Linked DNA regions of Homo sapiens. The protein of the gene in region 2 purifies or fractionates together with the protein of the main gene of each other region. This does not show direct contact. Each region holds a gene or a part of one and is shown on either strand. Other genes may lie near its edges.

The links.
Region 1: the proteins of SLC25A14 (region 2) and SDF4 purify together in Homo sapiens (affinity purification with mass spectrometry; 2 studies listed by BioGRID and IntAct, with this or other methods). This does not show direct contact.

The regions. Positions count from the first base shown.
Region 1 is NC_000001.11:1,228,660-1,243,535, forward strand, and holds the start of SDF4 (45 kDa calcium-binding protein isoform 2 precursor), read right to left. Parts: upstream 3,343-14,876; 5' UTR 3,233-3,342; exon of another isoform or gene 2,848-3,232; intron 288-2,847; 5' UTR 135-287; coding exon of another isoform or gene 114-134; coding exon 1-113. Other genes in the region: B3GALT6 (beta-1,3-galactosyltransferase 6 precursor), read left to right, coding at 3,620-4,609; C1QTNF12 (adipolin), read right to left, coding at 13,889-13,987, 14,176-14,254, 14,403-14,493, 14,785-14,876. UniProt on the Homo sapiens protein: May regulate calcium-dependent activities in the endoplasmic reticulum lumen or post-ER compartment. Isoform 5 may be involved in the exocytosis of zymogens by pancreatic acini.
Region 2 is NC_000023.11:130,332,396-130,347,508, reverse strand, and holds the start of SLC25A14 (brain mitochondrial carrier protein 1 isoform 1 precursor), read right to left. Parts: upstream 7,591-15,113; 5' UTR 7,547-7,590; coding exon of another isoform or gene 7,533-7,546; intron 7,403-7,532; 5' UTR 7,231-7,402; coding exon 7,156-7,230; coding exon of another isoform or gene 7,129-7,155; intron 2,328-7,128; coding exon 2,234-2,327; intron 966-2,233; coding exon 818-965; intron 1-817. UniProt on the Homo sapiens protein: Transports inorganic anions (sulfate, sulfite, thiosulfate and phosphate) and, to a lesser extent, a variety of dicarboxylates (e.g. malonate, malate and citramalate) and, even more so, aspartate and glutamate and tricarboxylates.

The DNA.
Region 1 (14,876 bases), on a different chromosome or scaffold from region 2:
CGAGTGGACGAGTGGTTGGCAGGCCGTGCAGACGCGTCCATCAGAAGGACTGCCCCCAGGAGCCAGAGGCAGCACGGAGCCAGGCCAATGAGGGGACCCCACCTGGACGCCATCGCCACCCAGGGCCAGACCATGGGGCGGGCTGCAGGGTGTGGGCCAGGTGCTGGGAGGGGCAGGGGCAGGGGCAGAGGAGGAAGTGAGGTCCTGGCTCCAATCCAATCCCCGGGCACCACGGAGGGCTCTGTGTCCCCAGGACGGCCGCAGGATGGGGACAAGCAGCTCACAGTCTGCAGAGAGACACAGACACATCATTAGCAAGACTCAGCAAAGACTTCCCCAAGCACGTCTATCCTGCAACATGAAACATATCCTCGATTCACAGGATCCAGACATGTGGCATCGCCTTCTCCAGACCACACGTGGCACTGCCTTCTCCAGACCACACGTGGCATTGTTTTCTCCGGGCCACACGTGGCATTTGTTTTCTCTGGACCACACGTGGCATTTGTTTTCTCCGGACCACACGTGGTGTTTTTTTCTTTATTTTTAGAAACAGGGTCTTGCTCTGTCACCCAGGCTGGAGTACAGCGGTGACCACAGCTCACCGTGACCACGAACTCCTGGGCTCAGGTGATGCTCTGGGCTCAGGTGATGCTCTCGCCTCAGCCACCGGAGCAGCTGCGACCACAGGCGTGCACCCCCACGCCCAGTAATTTATTTTTATTTTACTCTTTGTAGAGACGGGTCTCGCTGTATTGCTCAGGCTGGTCTCAAACTCCTGGCTTCAAGCGATCCTCTTGCCTCAGTCTCCCAACGTGCTGGGATTACAGGCGTGAGCCACTGTGCCCGGTCTTTTTTTTACAGACACTGAGTTTTCAGCCCTGTCTCTCCGTCTTTCCATCTCTCTCTCGAGCTGTCAGCACCTCCAGGGGCTAACCTGTCCCCATCGCCCAACACCTGCAGCACAGCTTTCCTGTGGGGCCCGGCTCTGTCCCTCCTGGCATCATGCCACTGACCCATGGGGTTAGGGTCACTCTCCAGACCCTGACTTGAACATTCTTGAGATCTATGACCTTAGCTAAGTCATGTGGCCTCCCCGGCCTCAGCTTCTCACTAAGAAACAGGAGGCTCCCCCTCTCCCCCCGACTGACCAGGCTTTGCGAAGACAGCCAACCCTAAGTGCAGAGGGCGTCAGGGCCTGGTCCCAGCAAACAAACACACAACCCCCACACACAGATGTGCACACACACATCCACACTCACGCATGCACGTATTACACACATGTGCCCTTGCCCACACTCGCGAGCGAACGCCAAGGCCGAGGAGCCCAGAAGTCTGTCCTGCCGTCCGAGGCGTGGCCAGTCCTGGTGGGAAGCAGGGGCTCACAGGGCCTCATGCCTCATGTATCCCAAAGGGAACTCGGGGTCCTTCTCACCCACGAGCCTACTCCTTTCACAGTCTGCCCCTCCGGCAAACACCTGCGGGTCCTTTCGGGTGCCGCTGAGGCCCCGCCATGTCACAGCTGTTCCCTCAACACACATGGACTGAGACTCCTGTTCTGTGGCCGTCTTATTCAGCTTCACTGTTCTGGCACCTGCCACTCTGCCTGCACACAGTAGGCGCTCAACGAATGCTACCCTGGGTAATATTAAACGAAAAAATGCTGCCTCCAGGTATCGAGAAACACCAGTGGGGCCGCCATGAAAGTGGTCCTGAAGTCAGTGCAGTCTGCCACAAACCAAGAGGGGTACAAGCCTGAGTTCCCCCAAGGAAGGAAACCCTGGGTGAGGGGCTCATGTCTGATTTTTTTTTTTTTTCTGAGACAGAGTCTCACTCTGTCGCCCAGGCTGGAGTGCAGTGGTGCAGTCTCGGCTCACTGCAACCTCCACCTCCCAGGTTCAAGTGATTCTCCTGCCTCGGCCTCCCAGTTAGCTGGGATTACAGGCACCCACCTCCACTCTCCACTAATCTGTATTTTTAGTAGAGATGGGGTTTTGCCATGTTGGCCAGGCTGGTCTCTAACTCCTGACCTGAAGTGATCCTCCTGCCTCGGCCTCCCAAAGTGCTGGGACTATAGGCGTGAGCCATGCACCCGGCCTGATTTTCTGAACATGGCTGAGGGCTTTTCCCTTCCCTAGTGGTGGCATAATTCTATTCCTGTCGTCCCAGATCGCCTGACCAGGGGAGAGTCCTGGATAAGAACCAAGACACCTCCTCCTGGTGCTGACTCCACTAACTACAGTCGTAAAACACACGCTGTGTGCAAAGAGACTGTACTTTGTTCCTAGAGAAAATAAAGCTAGTTCTTGATTCTACATATCTTGATGAGTTACACGGTTTACTTGAGGCAGGAGGATCGTGAGACCAGCCTGGGCAACACAGTGAGACTGCGTCTCTTTAAAAAACAAAAACAAAAAGATAAGACCCTGTCTCGAAAAAGGGGGAATAAAAAGTAACCCAAAAGTAACTATAAATATCAGGAGTCCATCAAGTGGCGCTTCCTCTCCTGGCTTCAGAGTATCTATTCATCACGGTGTGCCAGGTTCGCAGCACAGCGGAGCGGGCCGGTCCCACCGGAATGGGGTTTCGACTTCGCCATCCCCTAGCAGCTCAGTTCCCAGCAAGGAATCAACACACCCTTGCAAAACGGACGTGGGAAACAGCTTAGGCAGAGACGCTATTTCTTTGCCATCCCTGGGCTTCAGCTCTGGTGGAACGAGGCTATTTCTGGCAGTTAACAACACACACGGTTAGATTCTAAAAGCTCAACAGGGTTCATAACACCGCCTCTGAGCCAGACATCAAGGGCTCCACACAGCCGACTTCACATCTCCAAATCCTACTAACTGGGGATGAGGGTCCACGCGGTTCAGAAGCGGAAGCGCAGGCGCAGGGAAGCGGGGCAGCTTGTCCAAGGTCGCCTCGCCGATAAACGCGAGTCCAACCAGACCCCTTGGGCCTCCGTTTCCCGGTGGCATTCGTAGGTTTTGGCCAGTAGGAGACCAGACGTGCCGGCGGCCGGGGAGGCCAGCGTCGTCGGCCTGTCCCTGCCCCCGGGAACCCCGGGAGCCCCGGTGGCGGCGGAGTCTCGCCAGGGCTCAAGGCCGAGCGGACGGACGATGCCCCAGCCCAAGGCGGGAGGCGGCGGCGGCCTCCAGACCCGCCCTCGCCGTCCGGCCGGCGTACACTTGGCCCCGCGGCCTGCAGCGGCCGTCCCGGGCCCCTCACTCACCGGTCTGCCTCCCCGCGCTCGGGATCCGAGGACCGGAGCGAAGCGTCAGTGACGCCGCCAACGGGCCCGGATCAGGCCACTGCCATCTTTCTTGCGGGCGGGGGCGGTGCGAACGGGCGCGACCTCACGGAGGGGACGCCGGCGCCACCATCTCTCCTCCGGGCGGAAGCGGTCGCGGGGCCGCTCCGAGGTTGACCAATGACAAGGGTGCCCGAGGCCACGTGACGGCCGCCGATTGGCCGCCGGCCTCCGAGCGCCCCGGGGCTCGGCGTCTGCGGAAGGCCCCGGCGCGCTCCCAGGAGCGCCGTGCGCACGCGCACCGCCCCGAGCCGGCGGCGCCTGCGCACTCGCGAGTCCGGCCTGGGCCGCCGGCCCGGCGCGGGCGCCATGAAGCTGCTGCGGCGGGCGTGGCGGCGGCGGGCGGCGCTAGGCCTGGGCACGCTGGCGCTGTGCGGGGCGGCGCTGCTCTACCTGGCGCGCTGCGCGGCCGAGCCCGGGGACCCCAGGGCGATGTCGGGCCGCAGCCCGCCTCCCCCCGCGCCCGCGCGCGCCGCCGCCTTCCTGGCAGTGCTGGTGGCCAGCGCGCCCCGCGCCGCCGAGCGCCGCAGCGTGATCCGCAGCACGTGGCTTGCGCGGCGCGGGGCCCCGGGCGACGTGTGGGCGCGCTTTGCCGTGGGCACGGCCGGCCTGGGCGCCGAGGAGCGGCGCGCCCTGGAGCGGGAGCAGGCGCGGCACGGGGACCTGCTGCTGCTGCCCGCGCTGCGCGACGCCTACGAAAACCTCACGGCCAAGGTGCTGGCCATGCTGGCCTGGCTGGACGAGCACGTGGCCTTCGAGTTCGTGCTCAAGGCGGACGACGACTCCTTCGCGCGGCTGGACGCGCTGCTGGCCGAGCTGCGCGCCCGCGAGCCCGCGCGCCGCCGCCGCCTCTACTGGGGCTTCTTCTCGGGCCGCGGCCGCGTCAAGCCGGGGGGGCGCTGGCGCGAGGCCGCCTGGCAACTCTGCGACTACTACCTGCCCTACGCGCTGGGCGGCGGCTACGTGCTCTCGGCCGACCTGGTGCACTACCTGCGCCTCAGCCGCGACTACCTGCGCGCCTGGCACAGCGAGGACGTGTCTCTGGGCGCCTGGCTGGCGCCGGTGGACGTCCAGCGGGAGCACGACCCGCGCTTCGACACCGAATACCGGTCCCGCGGCTGCAGCAACCAGTACCTGGTGACGCACAAGCAGAGCCTGGAGGACATGCTGGAGAAGCACGCGACGCTGGCGCGCGAGGGCCGCCTGTGCAAGCGCGAGGTGCAGCTGCGCCTGTCCTACGTGTACGACTGGTCCGCGCCGCCCTCGCAGTGCTGCCAGAGAAGGGAGGGCATCCCCTGAGCCGCCGCGGCCCGGCCCTCCGGGACACCTGCTTCACCCGGCGGCGCCTTGGGGCAGGTGCCGAGCGGGCGCACTACGCCCGGGCCCCAAGGCCCCCGTCCCGCAGCCACGCTTGTGGTCGCTGCGTCCCGGTCTGCGTTTGGGAGACCCCTGGGGGTTGCCGGGGCAGCGCGCCGTGTCCAGGTGGAGGTGCCCGTTCCTGGACCTCAGCGAGCCTGAGCCGGGCCCGGCCGCACGCTGACCCCCGTGCTGTCCCCGACCGGCTCACGGGGCTGGGCTCCGATCTTCCGTGTCTCTTATCAGTGGCGTTTCTCACGTCTGCGTCTCAGATCTAACGTGGTTTCACATCAATCCGCTTTCATGGGATTTTGGTCTCTGTCCAGTGACTTCGTGGTAAATGTAACTCAGTGTTTGCTTGCGACTTATTTATAAATATTGTAAGTTTGTGTCGATGAGTGTAAGTTGGCAGTGCGCACGTCTCGGTTTTTTTACATGATTTAAGGAAAGACTTTTATGTCAGAACTTGGTGCCTGTACCGTCAACCCCGCTGCTGCCCGTGTTTAAACGCAGGAGAACTTTAAAACTGGCCATCTATCTTTTCAGTGTACAAGTCACTGAACCCATTGTTTCTTTCTGAAGAGACTTTCCTTTCAAGGCTTCCCATGGGTCCGCGCCACACAGGGCCGGTGCTGCTTTATTTCAGACTCTGCCCCAGGTTCCAGGAATCCGAACCCCGGAGTGCTGACGCGGTTCCCCAACTTCCGCCTTAAGAAAACAGGACCAGCCGGCACCAGGCCCGTCTCTCACGTACTTTAACACATCCTTGAAAGCCCCTCGTTTAATGAGAAAAGCGAACACTGCGGTCCTTGCCAAAGTAAAATGAAGCTGCCCCAGGACAAGGGGTTACCATGAGCTCCCTGGAGTCCGACGCGGGTTTTCTCTCTGGGGGACCTGGGTGGTCCCCGCTGTGGTCTTTGTTGTCCCACTTTGGGACCGGGTCCAGTCTGGGGTCTAGTCTCGAGCATCAGGGTCAGGCTCGGGGCAGGGCTGGGTTAGGCTCCGGGTCAGTCTTGCCATGGGTTTGGGAGCAGGTTTGGGTTACTTGCGTTTGAAGGCAGCAGTGGTCTCAGGAGGAAGAAACGGGGGCGGGAGAGAGTGGTGATCTGTGGTCAGTGGGTCAGTGACCTGCACGGTGATTCTCCCACCTCCAAAAGGTAGGGGTGGGACTGGAGGCGTCCCTAGGTCAGGCCGTTGAGTTCGAGCTCCGATGGGCCACCTTGAATCCAGGACTGACCGCCCGTGTGTGCACAGTTTGTTCTTGGACGAGGACTCGTGAGGATCGAGGGCTGGGGACCCCGGTGTGAGCAGGATGGGGCCCTGCCCTCCCGTGGGAGTTGTGGACTCGAGCCCAGGGGCTGCCCGTCACAGCGGTGTCCCAGGTCCCTGCCATCCGATTTTACCTGGGATGTCTTCTCTGGAGTTTGGAATTGCTTGAGGAACCCTGCGTGTGCTTGGAGAGGCCAGAGGGCTTGCTGAGAACCCCATGGACAGTGGAGAGCGGGATTCGAACCAAGGGCTGGACTCCCACACCTCTGGCCTGCGTCGCCCAGTTCTTTGTGGCTCTGAAGAATTGGCCGCTGTGGAAAAGAGCAAATGTCCGAGACCCCCAACAGGAAGAGTCTAAAAATCCAGTTTGCAACCACTTCTGACCTACAAAAAAATGGAAATTTAGTGTTTTTCAGCCTAAGACATTAAATTTCATATCAGAACAAAGCCTGCCCCAGGCTGACCCTCCCCAGCCGTACCGTGGTGAACGGGTTCAGAGGATACGTGGGCTGAAGGCTGGGCCTCGGGAGGGCTGGGGGCTTCCAGAGCCGGGGCAGCTGCAGCTCTCTCTGGTCTCACCTGGAACTTGCCCTGTAGATCCTCCCTGCCCTGCGGCTCCAATCGACCGTGCACGGGCCGTGGCATCCGTCCCCCAGGCGTCCTTCCCTGGTCTTAGCTTGTACAGCTCCCCACCCACCCAGGTACTCGGTTCCCGGAGACCAGGGCCAAACCAGGAGGCCCTCGGGAGATGGGGGGTCACCGAATTCATTTCCATGTGGGAACTTGGGATACAAAACAGCCAACTCTTCCTCAGCCACACGGATGTTTCTCCTCTAGTGGCCCCGAGAACCTACCATGGAGGGGACAGTGTCAGGGCTGGACGGGCACGGCGCAGCCACACGCACACAGCCCCCAGGAGGCACAGGGCCGGCAGGGAATGCAGGTCAAGCCAAGAGGATGGGCTCTGGTCCCTTCAGGATCCCCCAGGAGGAGAGCACCCCCTTCTGCCCTCTTCCTGGGGACTATGGTCCTGCCTCTCTGCCCCCTGAGGCTGGCATGCAGGCACCTGACGTTGGCTCCAGCTCTCTGGGCCAGCCCTGGGTACCCGCCGGGCCTGTGGCCTGGTTGGTCACCCCCAAGATGCAAAGTGCTACCTGCATCCGGAGGCACCCCCGCCCCTGAGGCCTCCAGGTTCCCACCTGCCCACCTGTGTCTGGCTGGGATCCTGGCTGTCAAGGCTCCTGTTACGGGACTGAACTGTGCCCCCTAAAAGATATTCCAAGCCCTAACCCAGCAGCTACAAACTGACCTTGTCTGGAAGTCGGGTCTCTGCAGGTGGAATTGCGTTAAGGCAAGGTCCTGAGGTGGCCTTACTCCCACGGAACTGGTGTCCTTACCAGAAAAGACCTGGGAAAAAGCCACTGTGTGGCTAGAGACTGACACCCAGGCGATGCCTCTGCAGGCCAAGGATTGAGGACCCTCCACCCCCACCCCACCAGGCAAGGAAGGGCTCTACCCAGAGTCAGGAGCGTGGCCTCCAGGGCTGCGAGGGAAGACGCCCCGTCCAGCAGCCCCAGGATGCCAGCCCAGTTCCCTGTGCCCGGCGCTCTTCGGTGCAGACGCAGGCAGGGGCTCCTGCAACCTTGTGGCATCACAGACGCCCAGCACTGACTGGGCCCAGATCTCCTCCCCGCAGGGCTCAGCACACACCCTGTTCCCGGCAGGCCTCCATCAGTCCAGCCTGCAGCAGGGCTGCCCCCGCGGCCTGGGTCACCCCAGACTCTTCCACCCTCTCCCTGGCTGACTGTCCCAGCTCAGAGTCCTCAGGTCTAAGGGGGTCACGGCCCTCCTGTGGCCCCACCGGCCCCAGGCTCCCCAGCTGTGGCACTGTGAGACCAGCTGACGTTGCAGGAATGGAAGCCCCAGCGGCCCAGACGGCTTGGGGAGTCCTCGGGAGCAGGTGGCCAGAGACAGGTGCGTGCCAGGCCCTCCGCACCCAGAGCGGGGCCGGGAGGAGAGAGGAGGCCCCTTGTTCGCGCAAGGCCCTGCTTCCTGGGCCCACAGCAGCCTGTCAGAAGTTTCCAGCTCCTTGGACTGGCTGTGTGGGGCCTGCTCCCTGGTTTCAGGGGCCTGGGAAGGGCTTGGCGCTTTTTCCTGGTTTCCTACTCTGAGGTGAGCTGGCGTCTCCCTCTCCCACTGTGGGCTGAGGGGAAAGACCTCTGTGTCCATCCCACAGGCCTGGCCAATCTCTGGGGTCCTCAAAGAGGAGGCTTTTGAGGGGGCACAGCCCAAACCCCTGGGCCTCCCCTTGAGGTCTCCTCCCAGCCCCCACCCAGAGGACCTTCCCACAGCCTTGGGAGCTGAAACCCAGGCCACCCCATCAAGTTGGCCTCTGTGGGTGTACACACTCCTTTCCCTCAGGGCCAGGGTGGGTCCCCACCCCCAGCACTCACAGCCCCTCCTTCTCTGGCCTCCCTGCCCTCCGCACCCTCCCTGCTAGATGCTGGTGCCGCTAGCCCTGCCCTGATGGCCACACTGCACCACGCTGGCCAGGTCAGAACCACCCGAGGAGAAGAACCAAGATCTGGCCCCACCCTGTCCTCCTCGGAAGGTCTCTCTGGGGCCCACCCCCTCCTCCCTCCCCAAGGATCTGAGCCTCCCTCACCGAGGTTCCCAGTGGAGGTAGACAGTGGATGAGTGATCCCAGGAGAGCTGGCTGCAGCCAAGGGGCTGAAGGGAGGTGGAGGCGGGAGGGGCAGGAAGGAGGATCTGGAAGGCCCCAGGCGCTCCCCACCCATCCAGCCTCGGCCTCTGTCCTGGTCGCGTTGCCCAGCGAGGCCTCTCCTTGGGCTGGGGCTCGGGTACTCTGCCCTGGTCGGGGCCACAGATGCCGCAAAGTCCCCTCAACTCAGCTAGCCAGGGTGCAAGACCGCGCCCACAGCTGAGAAGCCAGGGGTTACGAGTGTGGCCCTGCCAGGACCTCCTCAGCTGCATCCTCCAGAGTAAACACAGGTGGCCGCAGATCTTCCAGGGCCGGCCGGGCAGGCAGGACAGGAGCCCAGGAGGGCCGCAGTCCAGCTCCCCTCCCCGCTGACCCAGGGCCGGACCCAGCCCGGTGACTGGAGCAGAAGGAAACCCAAGCCCCAGGCCCTCCCTCCGGTGGCATCCGAAGGTCTCAGCGGCCCCAGCCTCCCCCAGGGGCCCCGCACCCGCCACCGCCCACCTCAGACCGGAGAGAGAGTGAGGGATGGGCAGAGCCAGGCCCAAGTCCCCGCCGGGGCGACGGTCACGGTGCCTCACCCTCAACCGCCTCACCCAGACCTTCCGACCCAGGAACAGCTGAACTCAGCCTAAAAAGCACCCGTCCCGAGGGCCTGAGTCCGGCCGTGGTGCCTCCTGCTGCAGAGATGTGTTTTGCACACTCCTGTGTGGCAGGGAGAGGCCCGGGCGTGCGGGCTGGGGGCCCAAGGGGTCTGGAGACGCTTCCCTGCGGAGACGGGGTTTGCCCAGCCCCCACCTGTCACGCTTCTCGTCACCCCCAAGTGAGGGCCGTGGGCGCGGGCGGGGTGGGCAGGAGGCCCTGCTGGGCTGGGTCACACGCATGACACCTGGCTGTCGCAACACAGATATCATCACGCCCGGGCACCCGTGAGTCACTGGCCCAGAGCAGGGGCTGCCCCCAGCCTCCCAAACAAAGACCCTTTGTCCCCAGGCCTCTGGTGCCAGGCCCACCTGTACAGCAGTCAGATGCGCAGGCGGACAGACACGCCGGTGGCTCGGCAGGCACAGGCAGGGCCAGGGCGTGTTCCCGCAACCAGACACGCTGCCATTCCTGGGTCAGGGTCAGGCTGAGGGAGACCCCTGGGGGACAGGCCCTGAGGTCACCATAGCTCAGAGTGACCTGAACTGGGAGTCCAAGCACAGACTGGCCAAGCCCAGCCCGTGAGCGACGGCCCCAGGACGCGGCGCCGAGCTCTGCCCCCAGCTCCAGCTCCCAGCGGCGTCGGAGCACAGCAGATCCCAGGGCAGCGCTCTGCAGGCAGGAAAGAGCTTCCCCTTGGGACAGCGCGCTGAGCAGCCCCCAGCTGAGGGTGGGAGCCCCGTCCCTGGACCCCTTCACGCAGTTCAGGGAGCCCCACATGCCGAAGCAGCCGTCACAGCTCCATGGGCCCCTCTGCTGTCCCTGGCAGGACCGAAGCTATGTGGCCTCCCGGACGCCAGGGACCCCGGCCACGCCCGCTCCAGGCACTGAGTGGCCAGCCAAGCGCTCGGGCCCGGGGTCCTGGACGGCTGTTCTGGGTTTGTTCTCAAGGGGGCCGTGCTGCTGGCTCTGTAGAGAGTCCCAGTCCCAGGGCAGAGACCCACACAGATGTGCAGACACGTGGGCACACACGCACCAGTCGCAGGGACACACAACTGTCAACCCGGGGTCAACACGGGGCACCTGGGTACATAGATTTTTACAAAGCAGGGCAGGCAGGTCTGTTTGGACCCTACACAGCCCCTACATGCCCCCAGGCCATTCTTGTTCCAAGGCCCAGATGACAGTGGTCACCAGGTGTGGTGTGGTCTGGGGTCTGGGACAGGCCCCAGGAACGCCCTGGGCTTACTCCAGAGAGGCTGGCAGGCAGTCCGAGGGGCCTTTGGAGCAGACACCCTCCCAGCTGCAGGGCGGCAGGGGCGGCAGGGGTGACAGAGGCGGGGAGAAGGATGCGAAGACAAGATGCCAAAGCTGGGCCTCCAGCGCCTGCCTGTCCTGGCTGCAGCCCCAGGGTCCACACCCAGGCGCCCCCAGGGGCCAGGCCAGGGCAGCCGCATCTCCTACGTACCCCAACAGTGGGGCCCTTGAGGCACCGGGGACGGATGGGCAATGGTGTCCACACCTGACAGGCGGGGCCGGAGCGGGGCCCAGCCTCCTCCTCACAGCCAGGAGCCCCCAGCCCTGCCTCCCCTGGCTCCTGCTGCCCCCTCAGGGTGGCTGCCGCACCTGGCCCCAAGAGGACTTCCTGGCTGCCCTGAGCTCCCGTCCGCATTTCTGTCCATTCAAGACCAGGACAGCACCAGGGCTGGGAATACTGGCTCCGACCCAGCCGAGGCAGCCCCGGGGCAGGGTGGGTCAGGCAGGTCCAGCGCTGGGACTCTAGGGAAGGGCTGGTCCTGTGAGCAGACGAGCTGGAGGGTTGGTGGGGGGAGTGTCCCCGCACCGGGCATGGCCCCTCCCAGGATGGCAGGGAGCCCACGGCAGGAGTGTCCGATGCCCCCAGCCCCGGCCAGGCAGCAGGGTCGGCCTGCGGTTCTGGGAAGTCAGCCCTGGTGGAGGTCACGGAGAAGCCGGCAGCTCCCTGCCGCTCAGGGCATGGGGTCAAGGGTCAGGGGTCAGGGGTCGGGTTGAGGCCGTCCGGCACGTAGCCGGCTGCTCTGGCTTTGCTCCTGCCAGGGTCCACGAAGCTGCCAGACGCTTGGGACACTCAATACCCCAGCTCCCAAACCGGGGGGCACAGGCCTGAAGAGATCCGTTTCCCTGGGCTCCCCAGGTCCCCCAGCCAGCCCAGACCCCAAGCAACAGCAGCTCTGGCTGGCCTGCACCTGCCCCGGGGACCCCACGCTCCGGCTGGGTGAGTGACAGGCATCTCCCACCCTCGTCAAGAGTCCAGGGTCCCTTCTATGGCAAACATTGCAGTGTGGGTCCAGCCCAGGAGGTGAGGCTGAGAGAGAATGAAGGGGTGCAGCTGGGCTGGGCCAGAGGATGGAGCCTTGGCTGGGTGGGCTGGGAGCCTGGACCCTCCTGTGAGGCCGCCCACCCCACCCCGACCTGTCCATTCCTTTGCTCCTGGGTGCCCAGAGGGGGCTAGAGATGGCACATTCCAGGGGAATTGCGGCTAAGTGGCTGATCACCTCCCACTGGGGCAGAAACCAGGAGGCAGAGGCCAGGGAGGTGGTGCCAGCACCAGGACATCCCCACGCCCCCCATTCACCCTGGCCCCAGCCCCCCCCATTCACCCTGGCCCCCATGCCAGCCCCCAGCCACCCCCGACCAGCCCCCATCCCCCACCTCATTCACCCCGGCCGTGGTCCCTGCCCCAGCCCCCGCCGCCCCCATTCACCCGGGCCCTGGCCCCCAACTCATTCAGCCCCGGCCCCCCGCCCCACCACTCCACGTCTCTTTGTCTCTCATCACCATCTTGCTCTACGCGGCCCTGGGTCCCATTTCTGGCATGTCCATCTGTCATCACAGCTCCTACCTCCGGGACTGGGTAGGGTGGGGGACTGGCTGCTGCTGAAGAACCTAGAGGGCCCCCATTCCCGGATGGTGAGGCCCCAGGCGGTGTTCAGAAAGGCCTGGCTGGGTGCTGCCTGATCCTGGGTGCCTGCCCCCAGCCCGTTCTTGCCCAGGGTTGGCCCGTCAGTTTGGGGAGGAGCCACTGAAAACTGGAAGCAAACAGGGGAGTCCGCAGCCCAGGGCTCACGCCAACCAGGAAGGTGCAGGCCACGCTCCTGCCTCTGCCTCCTCAGGGCCCCCACACTGCTGTCCCCGCTGACCCAGCTCCAGGAGGGCCCGGCACAACCTTGGTTCCCCCTGTACAGATGCACAGCTGCCCGACTCTCTGGAAGGGAGCACTCTTGAGTGCTGTGGCCAAGCAGGGCAGGGGCTGCAGAAGGGAGACCCCCCGTTCCAGATCCAGGCCCCAGGGGGCAGGCCGTGCCCACAGAAGGGGTGCTGAGGGCAGAGAGGAGCCCCTAAGCCGGGGCCACAGCCTTGGCAAGTGAAGCAGAGGCCCCTCCAGACAGCCCCAGCCCCTGACGCCACTCTGGGGGGCCCAGGGAGAGAGGTGGGGACGGGTCACCACCCAAGCCCACCTCGTGCCGATTGGCGCCTGCCCACACACCTCGTCGCAGGGCTGGGCTGTCCCGCCTCACTGCCCAGCAAGCCTTGGGGAGGGCCCCTTCTGTGCCAGCCCCGGCAGCTCCAGGTCCCAGGGGAGGGGTAACAGCCGTGGGCTCTGGCCTCTTCCAACCTCCCCAACCCCACCAGCGACTAAGGGCTCTGGATGCCAACCAGAGATGGCATCTCCGCAGCTCAGCAGAGGCCTGGACGTCCTGAGGCCAGTTTACACTCTTTGGTGTGGGTTTGCCAGAGCCAAAATGGGGTGGGGGTGGGGCCCAAATCCACAGGACCTGCCAGGGAGCAGCAGCATGATGGTCACATATGGGGCCCACCCCACCCTCCATGGGGCAGTTCTGGCCCCTAAGGCCCCCGAGAGGCCCTGGTCATTAGAGTGCGGCCATACCGAGAGCAGGCGAGGAGAAGCCTGCTGGTTCCAGCCCTGCTCCACCTGGGTGCCCCGGGCACGGCACGGTCTGGGCGCACCTGAGCCCGCAGGGGTGCCTTTCAGCTCCACACGCCTGCGGCGGCCAGCACATGCAAGCACGCGGTCCCGTGTGTGGCATGCACGTCCTCTTGCCCTGCACAGAGCCCCCCACAGGACGCAGGCCTCCCGAGGGCCCAGAACAGTGCTGCTCTCCAACCTCTGGGGCTTCCAGTGCCCCACGGCCTGCTGCTCCCCCAAGGCTGGACAGGCCGTGGGCAGAGCTGAGTGGGGCCGGCACGGACAGTGGTCCTTGTCCTCAGGGTCGACGTGGCCCCTGCAGGGGCTACCAGGGCAGCGCCCAGCCTCTTGCCATCACCATAATCCCGGGCCAGGTAAGTCGGCCCCGAGGGAGGCTCTACGGCCCATACCCCAAGCTACCGGGCTCCCCTGTGAACAGCACCCTTCTGCCCCCACCCATCTCCCGCCGACCTCGGCAGCCTGGCTTCCACCCCCAGTGAAACATCCAGGCAGCACTCGAAGGCAGTGGGGAGGGTGGAGGGCTCTTTATTGTGGTGACCACGGGCATCAGTAGGAGGGTCCCCGGGATCCGGCGGCAGCTCCTCGCCAGCCCCCCTGGGCGCCCTCACGTGCCCAGGAGCAGCCCGGAGAAGCTGGAGCCCGCCTGGATGGTGAGGACGGCCCCGGAGCCATTGTCCACAAACACAGAAGCGTACTGTCCAGCCTGTAAGAAGCACGGGGACGTCACAACCGCAGCCACAGCCCAGCCACTCGGTGGCCAACGTCTGCCCACCTGCCCTGCGCTAGGAGGTGCCGAGGCCCCAGAGGTCTGCGCCCTGAGTGCACCGAGCTCACACCCGGCCCAGCCCGAGTGCACCCGAGCCCTCCCGCTCACACCCGGCCCGGACTCACCTGCAGCTGCAGCAGCCCCTGCACCTGTAGCGTGAAGACCCTGCTGTTGCTCTCCAGGCCTGAGACGGCCTCCAGGCACCTGAACACAGCCCCACAGGGCAAGAGGGAGGCGTTGCAGGTCCAGGGGGCCAAGACCTGCTCCAGTGCCCAGAGACCCCTGTGGCCTGTGAGCCCCTCCAAGGGTGGTCCGGGGGCTGCCGCCTGGAGCGGGGGCTGAGGTCACTCACGTGTGGCGCTGGCACAGGGACTCAATACAGATGAGAACACACACCACGTCCCGGGCCCGCAGCCGGGCCTTGCCCTGCAGCTCACTGTGGTCTGCGGAGAGAGCCCTGGGGAGGGTGGTGCATGGGGGGCGGGGTGGGGGCTGGTGGGGAGGGGCTTCAGGGCACACATCCCAGGACAGGCCCAGGAGTGGCTGCTGGGGCTGGGGAGGGGGCGCCTGAGGCCAGGCGTGCAGCAGGGACCCCATGCCCAGTCCAAGGCCCCCCATGGGGCAGGGGATAGGTCCCTAACAGGACCCGCACCCGGGGCCGGCGATGCCAGGCGCCCCCAGAAAGCTCAGCCCCAGCCCCGTCACAGCACACGGCACTGCCCCATCCGGCTCACCCACGTGCAGACTGGCAGAGAACTGGAAGATGCCGGACACGGGGGCCGTGAACCGACCCGAGGCCAGGCTCAGACCGGAGCCTCGCAGGAAG
Region 2 (15,113 bases):
TAGAAAGACAGCAGCAGCTCAAATGGTTAGGATTTTTAAATGATGACTAAATATGCATATTTCTGACTTTATTGCTTGCTATCAGAAAATATCTTGTGATGATCTATGCTGATGAAAGAACAAGGTGAAACAGATGATCCACAAATCAGGATGGTGGATCATCTTCAGGATGCTTCAGGATACACTACTTGATTTTTCCCCCAAGAAAATTACCTTTTAAATTAAGTCTAACATAGTTTAACGATGTAACATAGTTTAACAATAAAATTGATGTCTATTCTCTGAGTAATAAACTGGTAGCCTAGATGCAGGAGTGGCCTAGGAAACTGGCAACAGATAAACTACAAACTAGACAGTAAACCACAAAATTATGGCTAATCAAAAGGTGATGATAAAGATGGGTCTCCCTCTCTCTCATTATGCACTTTCTGTTTAAACTGCAAGAATAATATTTTTTCAAAGAGGAAAATTTTAAAGGAAGTCAGAATTTGCCAACTCAGGAGGGATATCACAAAAATATATATAATTAATTGGTGCTGTTATTAACAGTGGCTATTAGTGACTCTCGGGAAATCCACAGAAAGCCTATGCTGCAATGACATATCCATTTTAAAATGTTATTATCACTTATAACCAAATGAACACAAAATCCAAAGCTCAAGACTTACAAGCAGGAGAAATATAAACTGGCATATCAATACTGAATTACAAGTTGAAATGGTGAATATGAAACGGACACAAACTATCAGACAGCTGAAAACTATGGCTTCTTTAAAAAGCATTTCTGTTAATGATATAAGGAAAGAACCAGTCTCACCCTGAATAGAGAGCCAATACACCTTCCTCTTTACAGATGCGAAACAGCGCATGGAACATCCCTCTATATTTTATCTCTTTGAAACGGGCATCAATGCTTTGGCCTTGAACCTGAAGTCGTGTTTTGGTAAGGTCCACAGGGAAAGTCCCTATAAAGGAACACACTTATTTATAAGTATGTCCAAAGAATCACAGTTAAGTTGTTGCTAAATATAAGCCAAGGACAATATTTGAATCCTAAGACAAAGTCCTTTTTATAACACATAGAAGAGCTCTAGTAGAATACCACTGTCAGAGAACATGAGTTGCATGTGGTAAGTGAAATGCATTATACTATACATAGGCAGCACCAATTGACCCACAATATACTTCAAACTGTAATATAATAAAATGCTTTCAGATTGCCCTATTATAAATGCAAAATAATTAAATGTTGTTTTTTATTTCATCTGTAACATATAATCTGGCATTTATCAGTCTCCCTCCTGCCCCTTCCCACCCCAAGTCTCCCCACCTCTGTGTCTCATAAAATCTCCCTAAATTTTCACAAAGATAGGAAAGCATGGGATTGCTGCTCCAGATGCTCTTATATAGTGTTACAAAGTTTTGTGGGGTTTTTCTTTTATCTGTTTACAAGAAACAAATAGTCCCCTAATATTATGAAAGATAATGGCAAAGTCTTATTTGGTTCTACTCATCCTGGTCCCTTAGGTAATTCAGGACTAATACCAGCAGAGTGTTTGGGGGGGAAATTTCTTTAACCAAACCTCTTACATCAACAAACAGAAGTGGTCATCACATTGACAAAATATATTTCAGGGTGTAAAACTAACAAGGTGATTAGGTAGCTCTGGTCACTGATGACCCAAATATCACAACACCACAGGATATGCCAAGAACGTCAGTAGTCACTCATGAATAGTTTAGAAAAGAGAACATCTGGAAGATGAAAAAAACGACAATCTAAAAATATTTCAAAATCAAAATCATGTAGAAGAGAATCTTGTTTGATCTTGTTAGTACATTTTCTTCTAAAATGGGAAAGAGGTTTGAAAAAAAGGACTTTCAGTACAAATAAACTTATAAATAATTTAGCATAAAAGACTATTAATACAGAAATATAGCAAAAACCCTTATGACATATCAACTCCCTCTATATATTCATGTATTTTACTTAAGCCTAGCAAACTAACAAATCACTAAACTACCAAAAAAGCTTTCCTTAGTTTGACTTTTCTTAACTCATCTGCCATACCATCAGTAGTACTTTCCCTGAAATATTACTTCATGGCTTTGAGACAATTTTCAAAATAAGGCGAGCTTCTTATTTTTTACCTAGCTTTCACCAAAAATAACCATCATCATAAGCTACCATCTATACCGTATAATGCAGATTTGTCATTTCTCACATTCTTACCAAACTCAGCCACGATAGAGGCAAGGCCGCCATATACAAAGGGTTTCCAATTCAGACCAGACATCTCATGACTTACAGTGGTACTTTTCTGGTGCTAAAAATAAACACAAATCAGAACAAGGCACAAGAGTGAGGAGCATTTGTTAGCATCTGATCATATAATTTAGATAAACAAAATTGGCAAATAAAATAGATGTAGAAGAAAAACCCCACCAAGTGGAATGACACAAAAATGGGGGATCCTGTTTTATGTGCTGGATGATCATGAGTTTGTTCTTTACTGACATTTTGTAGGGGTAGGCGTGTGATTCACTCAGAGATCAACCTGTGCCCTTCATTCTCTCCAGTTTCTTTAATGTTATATTCATCCCCACCCAGAGAAGAGGCTTCAGTCCATCCAGCACACCCAACTTTGACATTCAACTAGATAATTACAAATGAAGGAACCCGGAATTCAAATTATATAGGCTGAGGCATCTCATAAAAGCAGTTCATGGTATTCAGTTAGCTTGATTCAGGTGCAAAGCACAGGCTCACACTACTACTCTCTCATATTCTTAGCCCTCCTATCTCTCTACTATAGGGTTTCTAGCTATATATAACTTTGTCCCCCCAACTAGGCCCAGGCTGAGCTAAGAACTTTTTCACCTTCCTTCTAGCGCCCAAAGGAATGATAGCAATATGATGTCTATCTTCCCTCTGACATTTAACGTACATCCATCTAGTGGATCTCCTTTTCCTTCCTCTTGGCCTTTTAAAACACACACATATAAATACTGTTCTTCTTTTATGTTCTAGTTCTTTAACAACGTATTCTGCTCCCAGCCTCCCTTTTCTCCTTCCCTATCCCACCCCCGTTAGACCTGTCATCATCAATCTTTTCAGCTTTACTCTCTTTTTCTGCCACTGTCAGCTTGCTCTCTCTTGGATTTTATTTTTTCCAGAGCTCTGGCCTCTAGGTTTTGCAAATTTTAGCATGTATTAGAATCATCTAGAAGGTCTATTAAAACATAGATTGTTGGGCCTCTCCCCCAGAGTTTCTGATTGGTGGTATGGCCCTGAGAATTTGCAAGATCCCAAATAACGCTGATACTTCCACACTTAAGAACTGCTCTAGGCATTGCCTACTAAATCCTGGTCCATCTGAAAGTAGTATCTGTTCTTAGCATGGACTCTCAGATTTCTTTCAAATATTCCTTTTTCAGAGCTTCACAGTATGTATACTTCTGAATTTCAAAAGCAACTTCCAAGTGGTTTATGGTGAGGAATGCAGACTCCTGAAGTCAGACTGTTAAAATTTAAATGCTAACTCCAGATTCATTTCCTGACTCCACCACTTACTAGTTCTGTGACCTTGGGCAAGTTAATCTCTCTATGCCTCCACTTTCTGAACTGTAAAATGGAACTAATAATAAAAACTATATCATAGGGTTGTTGTGAAAATTAAATAATATATGAAAAACACCTTTAAAAGTGCCTGGCATGTAGCTCAATAATTGTTAGTTAACTATCATTATTACATTTTTAAAAATTTAAGTACCCAAATTTACATCTTAACAGATATTACTTGCTGCCCACCCCTCCCTCCCATTGCCCAGTCTGGGGTTAGCAGCTATGAGTCACAGTATCCCTTTGAAGGTTTTGCTTTGTTTCCACATAAGGAATTCTCTGTAACTAAGCAAAATACAATTTTCCAGAGAAGATAGCAAACACGCTGATTAAATGTTTTAGTTACAGGCCACAAAAATCATTATGGAGGCTTCCTTTCAAGCATAGCACATATAGAGTCTGGGATAGATAGCCCTTTTGAGGGAAAGTTGTTGAAAAGAATTCTAATGAGCAAAGTAGGAATAGCCACTTCAAGTATCAACTGCAGCTGGAAATAGGAGTCTTGAAGACTAAATACTACCTTATCACCATTTCTAGCTATGCCCACATTTTCCAATTAGAATTGATAGTAAAATATGACACATATGGTGAGAGTAGAGATGGAAAAGCAAGACCATGGCATATCCCCTCTTTGAGTTTGTGAGGAAAAAATTAACTCTCCATTCACAAATTTATCGATTGCCCCAAATAGTCTTAAAGGTTTCAGACAGCTACTTTTACTTAAAGTTGTCTCTCCAAAACTTTTTCTCCTTACAACTTTTTTCAACTCTTTGTATTACAGAGAAAGCCTCTATCGGAACTTCACAAGCTGCTACCAGCCCTTTAATAAGGAAAATGTGCTCAGGGAGCAATGATGAATCAGTGAAAGGCAAGGAACAGGGAGGACATGGCAGGAAGATGAAAGACCAGTCGCTGAATCTTAGGCCAGTTAGCCCAGTGGTTCCCTAATGAAGTTCCCACAATTCTGGGGCGAAATGAAAAAAATAAGGACACTTAGTCCTTTTTTTTTTTTTCAGCTAAATGTATTTAATTTAGGGACTGTCTATTATTAACAGATCAGATTCTTCTTACGCCTGGAGCACAGGCTAACTAGCCTGTATTTGTGTACCCTTCCCACATTTTCATTTACATTTTACTGGCCCATGAAATCCAAAAATCTGGAGACCACAGGCAAAACCCACCATTGCCACAATCACGACTTCCCTACCCCCATCTGATAGTAAAATCTCTTTCACTCCAATGTTAGGAAAAAATCTTATGAAGAAATCCTGGATCATATTTGATTAGATCTGTTTTTAGACACTCCCTCCTCATATTGAGCCAAAAGTCTGTCTTCCTCTAATTTGTACCCAGTCTTTGGAGGTAATATTCAACAAATGCATTCTTTTTTCCCTAGGCAAGCCCTTCAAATATTTAAAGACAGCTATGATGTTCTCTTACATCTCATGTTTCTTGAGCTAAATATCCATGATCTTTCTCTTCATTTGACACATTATACTTCAATTACTAGAGCTTAAAATTGCACTCACTTTTTTGGGAGCCACATCACACTATCAAATCATTAAACTGTCAGCTGAAACCTCCAAGTCTTTTACATAAAGTTGTCTACATGCATGCGTGTTGTGTCACACCTATTCTACAGGTGTGCAATATTTTTTGAACCTTCTTTTATCCCTTCTATATCTTAATCTCAGGCATAAAAATAATGACTAGGATGAGGGTCAACTTCAAGATGTCCAATGTTATTTCCTCTCTTAACTAAGTAAGATCCCCAAGGGAAGATACTATATCTCACAGTACTTTTTATAACCCCCATTATAGCTTGCATAGAATTGAATACATATCCATTCAATACTTAGTTGGTTTTGCAGTGTGACATCCTTTACCTATGTATGCAGCCTGTATATAAAAGATTGCAGAGGAAACAAGGAAGGTAACTTGCTGGACCTGGCCAATGCTACACACCCTGTGTATGACACTATCTTGATCCCCAGATATTCTCTGCCTGCGAACCCTGTTCCCTTGCTTTTGTTCCAAGGAATTACTTATGTAAAATACCCCAAGCCCTCTAAAAATTATTTTAACTTGTAGGGGCTAACCCCAAATATGCGTAAAAGTAGTCATATCTAAGGTAAAATAAAAATATAGTACCCTAAATATTTTTACTGTATAAAGAAACCAATGAAAATTGTCTTCAAAATGCCAACATTTATTCTGAAGATCTGACTTCGGAGAATTTGATAGACTAATGAGTGAAAGTAAGAATGTCCTACAATACAAGTTACATTGCCCTATACTACTCCCAAGATCTGGTCAGGAAACTCTGGGTGCCTCTCCTGCTTTCTCCTTTAAGAAAGAGTAGAAATTAGAGATTCTCAGATTCAGAAGGTAACAATGGAGAGCCAAGCAGATATTTATTGAAGGCATGCTAAATGCCCAAACCTGCAATGCACTTTGGGTATAATCATATTTGAAAAACACAGATATTCGTTCTAGCACCAAGACAATATTTACCACTCAACCTGTCTTTTCTGAATAACCAATGAGATGGGACAGAGAAAAAAGTACGAAATACAGTACTTGCCTTTCAAGAGCTTATAATCTGGTGGAAGAAATCAAAGTAGTGCGTTAGAGAAAAATTAAGTACTAAACTGTGTAGTACAAACTTTAAGAGCAAGAGGAGCATAGAAAAGACTACAACCAGCATGGGATTGACTAATTTGAAAATTGCCGAGGTGAGAGAACCTAAATTGAACCTTGAGAGACGGTAGGTACAACCTGGTTAGGTGCAGGTAAGGGAGAGGGGCAGGGAAGAGAGAATGAACAGAAACACAAATGTGGGAACAAGCACAGCATGTAGAAGCAGGCATCAGTATGGTTTGTGCCAAGAAGAAAGGAACCTAACTGGAACAGAGAATTCCCTTGTTGACTGAAACAGTATCAGACAAGAAGTGTGATAAGGAGCATGTTATGTTGAAAGGCTTGAAACCAAGGGGTGGGGGTAGGGGGTGTAGGAGGGGGCTGCATGTTTTGTGTGTGTGTGTTTAACAACGAAGTGACTTGAGGAAATCCACCACATTTTAGCCTATTAGGGCTGCAGCAAACACAGTGGATTACATTACAAACGGGAGAGGCAGGGAGACTAGCTTAGGATGGTGCAAAGTACAGCAGACAAAGATGCTTGTTGGCACTGAGGTTAGAGATAGACTTCCCCAATGAAGACACAAAGAACTCGATGATGTAGGGAATGAAGACGAGGGAAGAGTTCATGATAACGCTAGGCATCTCTAGGCTGGGGGGAAAAACAACAACAACAAGGAATCACTGACAGGAAACCATAAATGTCCCTGCTGTTATCCTGTCTGAGAAACTAATTCATGTTGATAACAGCTGTCATGCCAATCAAGTAACTGAACTGCATTTTAATAGATGCCTTCAATGCCTTGACCTCAGGAGTGACAGGGGGTAGAAACCGAAGGGGAGCATCTTTCAACAGTATCCCTTACACTAATACAATGGAGGTGTTTGCTTACTCCGCTTACAATCACGGCCGCCGTTGCAAACTTCACCCTTAGAAAAATTAGGATTATTCCGGGAAAGATACCCATTCACCCTCTGGGTAGCAGGATCTTGCCAGTTCCTCAGCTGTCAGAGCGAGCTCGTGGAGAGAAGGGAGGCGCCTGAAGAAGGCGGCCTCCCAGGGGGGTCGAGGAAGCAGGGTTCAATCGAAGAAGTAAAACCACCGATGCCAGAAGAGTGAAAGACAGGGAAGGGACTCAGCTGAGGGGAGAGAGAGACCAGAGGACCGTTAAGCCCCTCCCAGGCCGGGAACCAGGCCAGCCCGGCCCCGCGCGGCCTGGCGCGGCCCAGCCCCGCTCCCCAGCCTGGAAGTCCAGGAGCTCCCCCTCACCTGCTCGGGCTCATCGGACGACTGGGAAGCTGAGGCTCCCACAGTCGGAAACGCCACTGCAGCGCCAACCCGGAAGCATTGAAACCAACGGAAGTAACCAAAGCGTTGCTTCGGCAACCGCGGCGCAGCCATTTCAACTCCGCCCCTTCCAAAACTAAAAACAAAGGCGCGAAATAAGAGGCGGAAGCGGCAGAGTTCTAAAGGCGAGGGTCGGAACCACTGCAGGCGCAGAAGCCTAGAGGGGCAACCGGACTTGCGGGAGGTGGAGGCAGGGCAGCTAAGGCGTGAGAATTTGGTAGCTTCCCCAGTTAACGTGCTCGCCAGAGGGGAAAGAGGTGTCGCCTCGTCACCGCGAAACCCACCCACCTGGCGCGTAGAAGGACTAGAAAAGGAAGGGGCCTCGCCCCGGTATCAGGGCTTGAGGAGTGGGTCAAGGGGAGTGGTGGGCGTAGTGCCCTGCGCGCTCAGTACGAAAAAGGCGGCAACGTGGAGGGGGTGGGGCAAAGGCTTCAAAACAAAAGTAGGAAAGTGAGACATAGGGGTGAGCCGAATTTAGTGAGGTGCCTGGGCTCAATGAGAAAATAAAGTTCAAGGCCAGGCGCGGTGGCTCACGCCTGTAATCTCAACACTTTGAGGGTCCGGGCGCATCACTTGATGCCAGGAGTTTTGAGACCAGCCTGGCCAACATGGTGAAATCCCGTCTCTAGTAAAAATGCAAAAAAATTAGCTGGGTGTGGTGGCACGCACCTGTGGTCCCAGCTACTCGGGAGGCTGAGGCAGGAGAGTCACTTGAACCCCGGAGGTGGAGGTTGCAGTGAGCTGAGATCACGCCACTGCCCTCTAGCCTGGGTGACAAAGCAAGACTCCATCCAAGAAAGGAGAGAAAGAGAGAGAGAGAGAAAGAGAAAGGAAGGAGGGAGGGAGAGAGAGAAAGAAAAGAGAAAGGGAGAGAAAGGAAGGGGGGGAGGGAAAGAAGGGAGGGAGGGACGGAGAATGATCCAGACAGCACCTACTGGACGTCAGACATTAACCAGTGAAAAATTACGGTCAGACCCCTTACTCGAAGCTCTTGCTTTAATCAGAAACTTCACTTAAGAAAGAGCAAGTTGGATACCAAAAAGGGGACCACAAAAAGCTAAACAGATGAGGCAGAAAAACACCAACGGGAAATCCCAGTTAATCCAAACCTCATAATCCACCAGAAGATGCCAAGAGTCCGACCCCCAGCTTCCGACTCTGGCCCCTCTGGCTGCTGGAAGGGGAAACCGCAAAGCCCCTGGGTGATTCCATTAGCCAATGTGCTATGACGTCCGATTTTTGAGCTATGACGTCCGATTTTTGAGCCTCTTAACAACGTTCCCTAATCACGCGAGAGTACGCAATAATAGGGTTTATTGCTTATGTGTTATAAGGAAAAGTCAGTGCAAGTTGGCCCTAAATGGTTATTTGTTGAATGAATAAATATTTGGAACTATGTTCTTCCAAAAGGATATTTCTCATTTTAGTTCACCTTGTTTTATTTTGTTGGGTTTTGTTTGTTTTTTTTTGGACAGAGTCTCACTTTGTGGTCCAGGCTGGAGTGCAGTGGTGCGATCTCGGCTCACTGCAACCTCCACCTCCCAGGTTCAAGCGATTCTCCTGCCTCAGCCTCCTGAGTAGCTGGGATTACAGGTGCCTGCTACCACACCCAGCTAATTTTTGTATTTTTAGTAGAGACGGGGTTTCGCCATGTTGGCCATGCTGATCGCCAACTCCTGGCCTCAGGTGATCCACCCGCCTTGGCCCCTCAAAGTGCTGGGATTAAAGGCGTGAGCCACCTCGTCTGGCCTGTGTTTTTGTTTGTTTGTTTTGTTTTCCACTTAAAAATTTCTCCAGGCAGCACACATGACGATAATATTAGCTGACATTGTGCAGTACCTACCATGTACCAAGGGTGATGCCAAGAGCTTTTTGTGTTCCTAACTACCCTATAAGACAGGTACTATTATTTTTCCCCTTTGACGGTTGAGAACACAGGCCATAAAAGGTTAGGAGAGTAATTTAGAAAATGGCAGAGCTGGGATTGCTCTTAACCACTATGCTATGTTGCTCTCATCTATACTATAGTTGGGAAGCCGAGGCAGGAACATCATTTGAGCCCAGGAGGTCGAGACCAGCCTGGGCAATATAAGGAAACACCCGCCTCTACCAAAAATTTAAAAATTAGCCACGACTGTAGTCGCAGTTACTCCGGAGGCTGAAGTGGGAGAATCACTTGAGACCGGGAGGTCAAGGCTGCAGTGAGCTGTGATCGCGCCACTGTGCTCCAGCCTCAAATTTTTTTTGGCTGGGCACAGGAGCTCACGCCTGTAATCCCAGCACTTTGGGAGGCCGAGACGGGTGGATCACCTGAGGTCATGAGTTCGAGATCAGCCTGGCCAACATGGTGAAACCCCGTCTCTACTAAATATACAAAAATTAACCAGGTGTGGTGGCGTACGCCTGTGATCCCAGCTACTCGGAAAGCTGAGGCAGGAGAATCGCTTGAACCTGGGAGGCGGAGGTTGCATTGAGCCGAGATTGCGCCACTGCACTCCAGCCTGGGCGACAAGAGTGAGACTCCATCCCCCCCACCCCCCAGAAAAAAGAAGTCACCATTAAGAAGAGTGAAAACGCAAGCCCCACAATGGTAGATTTTTAATCCATGTATCCTACAAAATTTCATATCCAGTATATGTAAAGAACTCCTAAAACAGTAATAAAATGATAGGCTACTCAAATTTTTAATGGGAAAAATGCTTGCGGGGCACTTCATAAGAGAGTATATCCAATAACCAATAAGCATATTAAAAAGTGTTCAACATTATTATTCATCAGGAAAATTAAAATTAAAATCACAATACACACCCACCAGCGTGGCCAAAGTTAAAAGGACTGAGGATTGGCAAGGATGTAAAGTATCTCAAATTCTCACATACTGCTAGTAGGAGTGTGTGTTAATTTTCTATGCTGCATTAAAAATTTGCCACAAATTCAGCAGCTTAGAACAACACACATGTACTGTCTCACAGTTTCTGTAGATCAAGAGTCCAGGCATGACTTCACTGGGTCCTGTGCTCTGGGATCTCACAAGGCTGCAATCAAGGTGTCGGCCAGACTTGTATTTTTATCTTAAGACTTGACTGAGTGAAAATCCACTTCCACGCTCACCCAGATTGTTGCAGAATTTATTTCCTTGCACCTGTAGCACTGAGGGCTTCAGTTTCTTTCTGGCTGTTGTCCAGAGGCCACTCTCAGCTGCTGAGGCTGCCCCTGTTTTCCTGCAACGTGACCCTTTCCACAGACAGCTCACAATATGGCCACTGGTTCTTCCGGGCCAGTAGGAGAATGAGAGCCTAAGATGTGATTTTATCAGTGCAGTGTACATTGGGACTATTAATTTCTTTGGTGAAGACTATATATAGTTTTCAACATTACAATAGCTTTACTATTTTTTCTGATTATAAAAAATACATAGTTATTATAAATCACTAAACTATACACAAAAGTGGAAGGAAGGTAGCAATTACCTGAAATCCAAACATCCACTGCTACTCTTGATAGTCAAAAGCCTCCTTCTAGTCCTCACCATGCATACACACATGCTTATCCTATAATTCTTGAGATAGGTGTGTTCATGTCATGTGCTTCTGGAGGGTGGCCTTATGTCCTTGTGTGCTGGAGTCAGTGGGCTGGCTATCCCTAACTTATGGTCCTCCTACATCGGGAAGCAGATTTTCTGCTTTTGTTTTCATAATAAGTAATACTCCCCCGCCTGGCCTCAATTTTAAAGTGATGCATCTTCATGGAGGGGAAAGGAAAACACAAAAGAAAAATTTTAAACACACACAAATAAAGATAAAAACACAAAAGAGGTTGGGCGCAGTGGCTCACACCTTTAATCCTAGCACTTTGGGAAGCTGAGGCAGGCCTGAGGTCAGGAGTTTGAGACCAGCCTGGCCAACATGGCGAAACCCCGTCTCTACTAAAAATACAAAAAATAGCCGAGCATGGTGGCACACGCCTGTGATCCCAGCTACTCAGGAGGCTGAGGCAGGAAAACCGCTTGAACTCGGGAGGCAGCAGTTGCAGTGAGCCAAGATCGAACCACTGCACTCCAGTCTGGGCAACAGAGTGAGACTCCGTCTCAAAAAAACAAACAGTACACACACACACACACACACACACACAAAAGTAAGTAAAATGTAAGCGTCATCCCCACTACCCAGATACCAGCATTAACATTTTTCCATCTTTTATATGTTTATGTAAATATTGCATGAACCTAGTCTTACCTATGCCTCCTTGCAGACCTCACTCACTCCTCCTTGCTGCTCCTGGAGAGCCACCTTCCCTCTCCATTTATCTTTCCTATCAGCTTCATATTCTTCCCAGGTTACCACAAAAAGAAAATCTTCTAACCCTGTGTCACCCTCTAGATTCTGCTTGATCTCCTTCCATTAATAGCCCTTTAAACATTGTTGTTTTTTTTTTTTTTTTTGAGACAGGGTCTATCTCTGTCACCCAGGCTGGAGAGCAATGGCACTATCATGGCTCACTGCAGCATCAACCTCCTGGGTCCGAGTAAGTCTCTACCTCAGCCTCCTGAGTGGCTGAGACCATAGCCATGCACCACCATACTCGACTAGGCTTTTATTTTTTATTTTGTAGAAACGGTGTCTCCCTATGTTGCCCAGGCTGGTCTCAAACTTCTGGGCTCAAGCGATCCCAATATTAATATTCTTTGGCTCATGCCTGTAATCCCAGAACTTTGGAAGGCCAAGGCGGGCAGATCACTTGAGTTAGTTGTTCAAGACTAGCCTGGCCAACATTGTGAAAATCCATCTCTACTAAAAATTAAAAAAAAAGTTAGCCAGGTGTGGTGGTGGGTGCCTGTAATCCCAGCTACTTGGGAGGCTGAGGCAGGAGAATGGCTTGAACCCGGGAGGCAGAGGTTGCAGTGAGCCAAGATCATGCCACTGAACTCCAGCCCAGGCGACAGAGCAAGACTCCCCCTCAAAAATAATATATATATACATATATATATATGTATATATATTCTGAATATTGTGTTTAGCCCAATACATCCAAAAATATCACTTCAGCATGTAATCAATATAAAAATTACTAAGTAAATATTTTAGTCTATTCCATACTACATTTTTGTGTATTTTACATTCACAGCACATCTCAATTTGGACTAGCCACATTTCAAATGCTCAATAACCACATGTGGTGAGTGGCTCCCGCAGTAGGCCGCAGAGATCTATCTCATTGCTCCATCTGATGAATTATCACATAGCTTCTCCAGCATCCCCCTAAGGAATCATCTAGCCTCCTGCTACTCAAGTGCACTCAACTGGCAACATCAATATCACCTGGACCTTGCTAAAAATGTAGACTCTCAGGCCTCAGCCAGACTCTATTTAAATAAGAATCTCCATTTTAACACTATGTCCAGATGATTTCTTTGCATATGAAACTTTAAGAAGTCTGTTCTGCCCCCTGTTAAACGCTTCCAGTAGCAGGGAGCTCACTATTCCACCCCCAAAGAAGGTCATTCTATAGTTAAATAGTTCTACATTATTAGAAAAACATTTATCTTTCCTTTACTGAGTATTCCCTATGATCCTGGCACTGTGCTAAGCACTTCATGCAAATTATCTCACGTAAGCCCAGCAGTCTATGAGATAGAGGGTAATTTTGGCTCCTTTTGTTATCGTTGTTGTTGTTTTTTTTTTAATTTTTCATTTTTTTGAGACAGAGTATCACTCCATCACCCAGGCTGGAGCCCAGTGGCGTGATCTCAGCTCACTGTAACTTCCACCTCCCAGGTTCAAGCGATTCTCCTGCCTCAGCCTCCTGAGTAGCTGGGATTACAAGCGTGTGCCACCATGTCAGGCTAATTTTTGTATTTTTAGTAGAGACAGGGTTTCACAATGTTGGCCAGGCTGGTCTCGAACTCCTGACCTCAGGTGATCCATCTGCCTTGGTCTCCTAAAGTGCTGGGATTACAGGCATGAGCCACCACACCTTGCCCATTGTTGTTTCACTATAGAAAAATGTACATTACAGCCAGGAGCAGTGGCTCATACCTGTAATCCCAGCACTTTGGGAGGCCGAGGCAAGTGGATCACTTAAGGTCAGGAGTTCAAGACCAGCCTGACCAACATGGTGAAACCCCATCTTTACTAAAACTACAAAATTAGCCAGGAATGGTGGTGCATGTCTGTAGTTGCAGCTACTCAGAAGGCTGAGGCAGGAGAATCACTCGAACCTGGGAGGCGGAGGTTGCAGTGATCTGAGATCGTGCCACTGCACTCCAATCTGGGCAACAGAGTGAGACCCTGTCTCAAAAAAAAAAAAAAAAAGGACATTACATAAAATTTACCATTTTAACCATTTTTAAGCATACAATTCTATGGCATTAAGTACATTCCCAATGTTGTGCAACCATCACCATTATCTATTTCCAGAAATGTTTCATTTTCCCAAACAGAAGCCTATTAATCACTTCCCCTCTCCCCTCTCCCAGCCCTTGGTCACTACTATTCTACTTTCTCTATGAATTTGCCTATTCTTGGTACCTCATTTAAGTGAAATCATACAACATTTGTCCGTTCGTGTCTGGCCTATTTCGATTAACATAATGTTTTCAAGGTTCATCTACGTTGTGCCCTGTATCAGAATCTCCTTATTAAGGCTGAGTCATATTCCATTATATGTACAGAGCACGTTTTGTTTATCTACTCTTTCTATAGATAATATTTGGGTTGTTTCCACATTTTGGCTACTATACATGTTATGAACACTGGTGTACAAGAATCTGTTTGAGTCTTTGCTTTCGATTTTTAGGGGTATATACCTAGGAGAGCAATTGCTGGATCATATGGTAATTCTATGTTCAACTGTTTAAAGAACTGCCAAACTGTTTTCCAGAGTGGCAGCATTGTTTCATCACAGCCTTTTAAAAATATAGCAGTTTTTGTGGCTACTTTTCTGATCAGAAAAAATGTTTAAACATTCTGTTTTATGAAAACTGAAATATAGACAACTTTTTTCCTTTATTGGAAATATTTATTTAACAAAAAAAAAACAGAATAAAAAGAATGGTCCTAAGAAACTAATGGTCTATTAATTTTTAGTGGCAATCCATATTTCTAGTGATGCTTTTAGAAAACAATGTAACAAAACATTTAAAAGTCATGCTAATATTACTAATATTTACACCTTGCATCTCAATTGGGTAAGTATCCAATTTGATGCATATCCTAGTAAATTTTTAGGTACCAAACAAAAATTGAACTGATATTCATAACATAATGGTTTATTTATCTATTTTTCCTGGCTATCATGTGCCTTATATTTTCATAATGAAAAAGGGTACCAATTGTTTAAATGTCTTTAAAAACTACCCATCTACCTATATAGCAAGTTTTAACATGATTCTTCGAGTCATCCCTTACCCAAAAAATTCATCTGATTCTCTACCCTGTAATGTATACTTCATATAAACGTCTATAATCCTTTATTCATCACCTTCTATAACGTTATCGGTAGCCT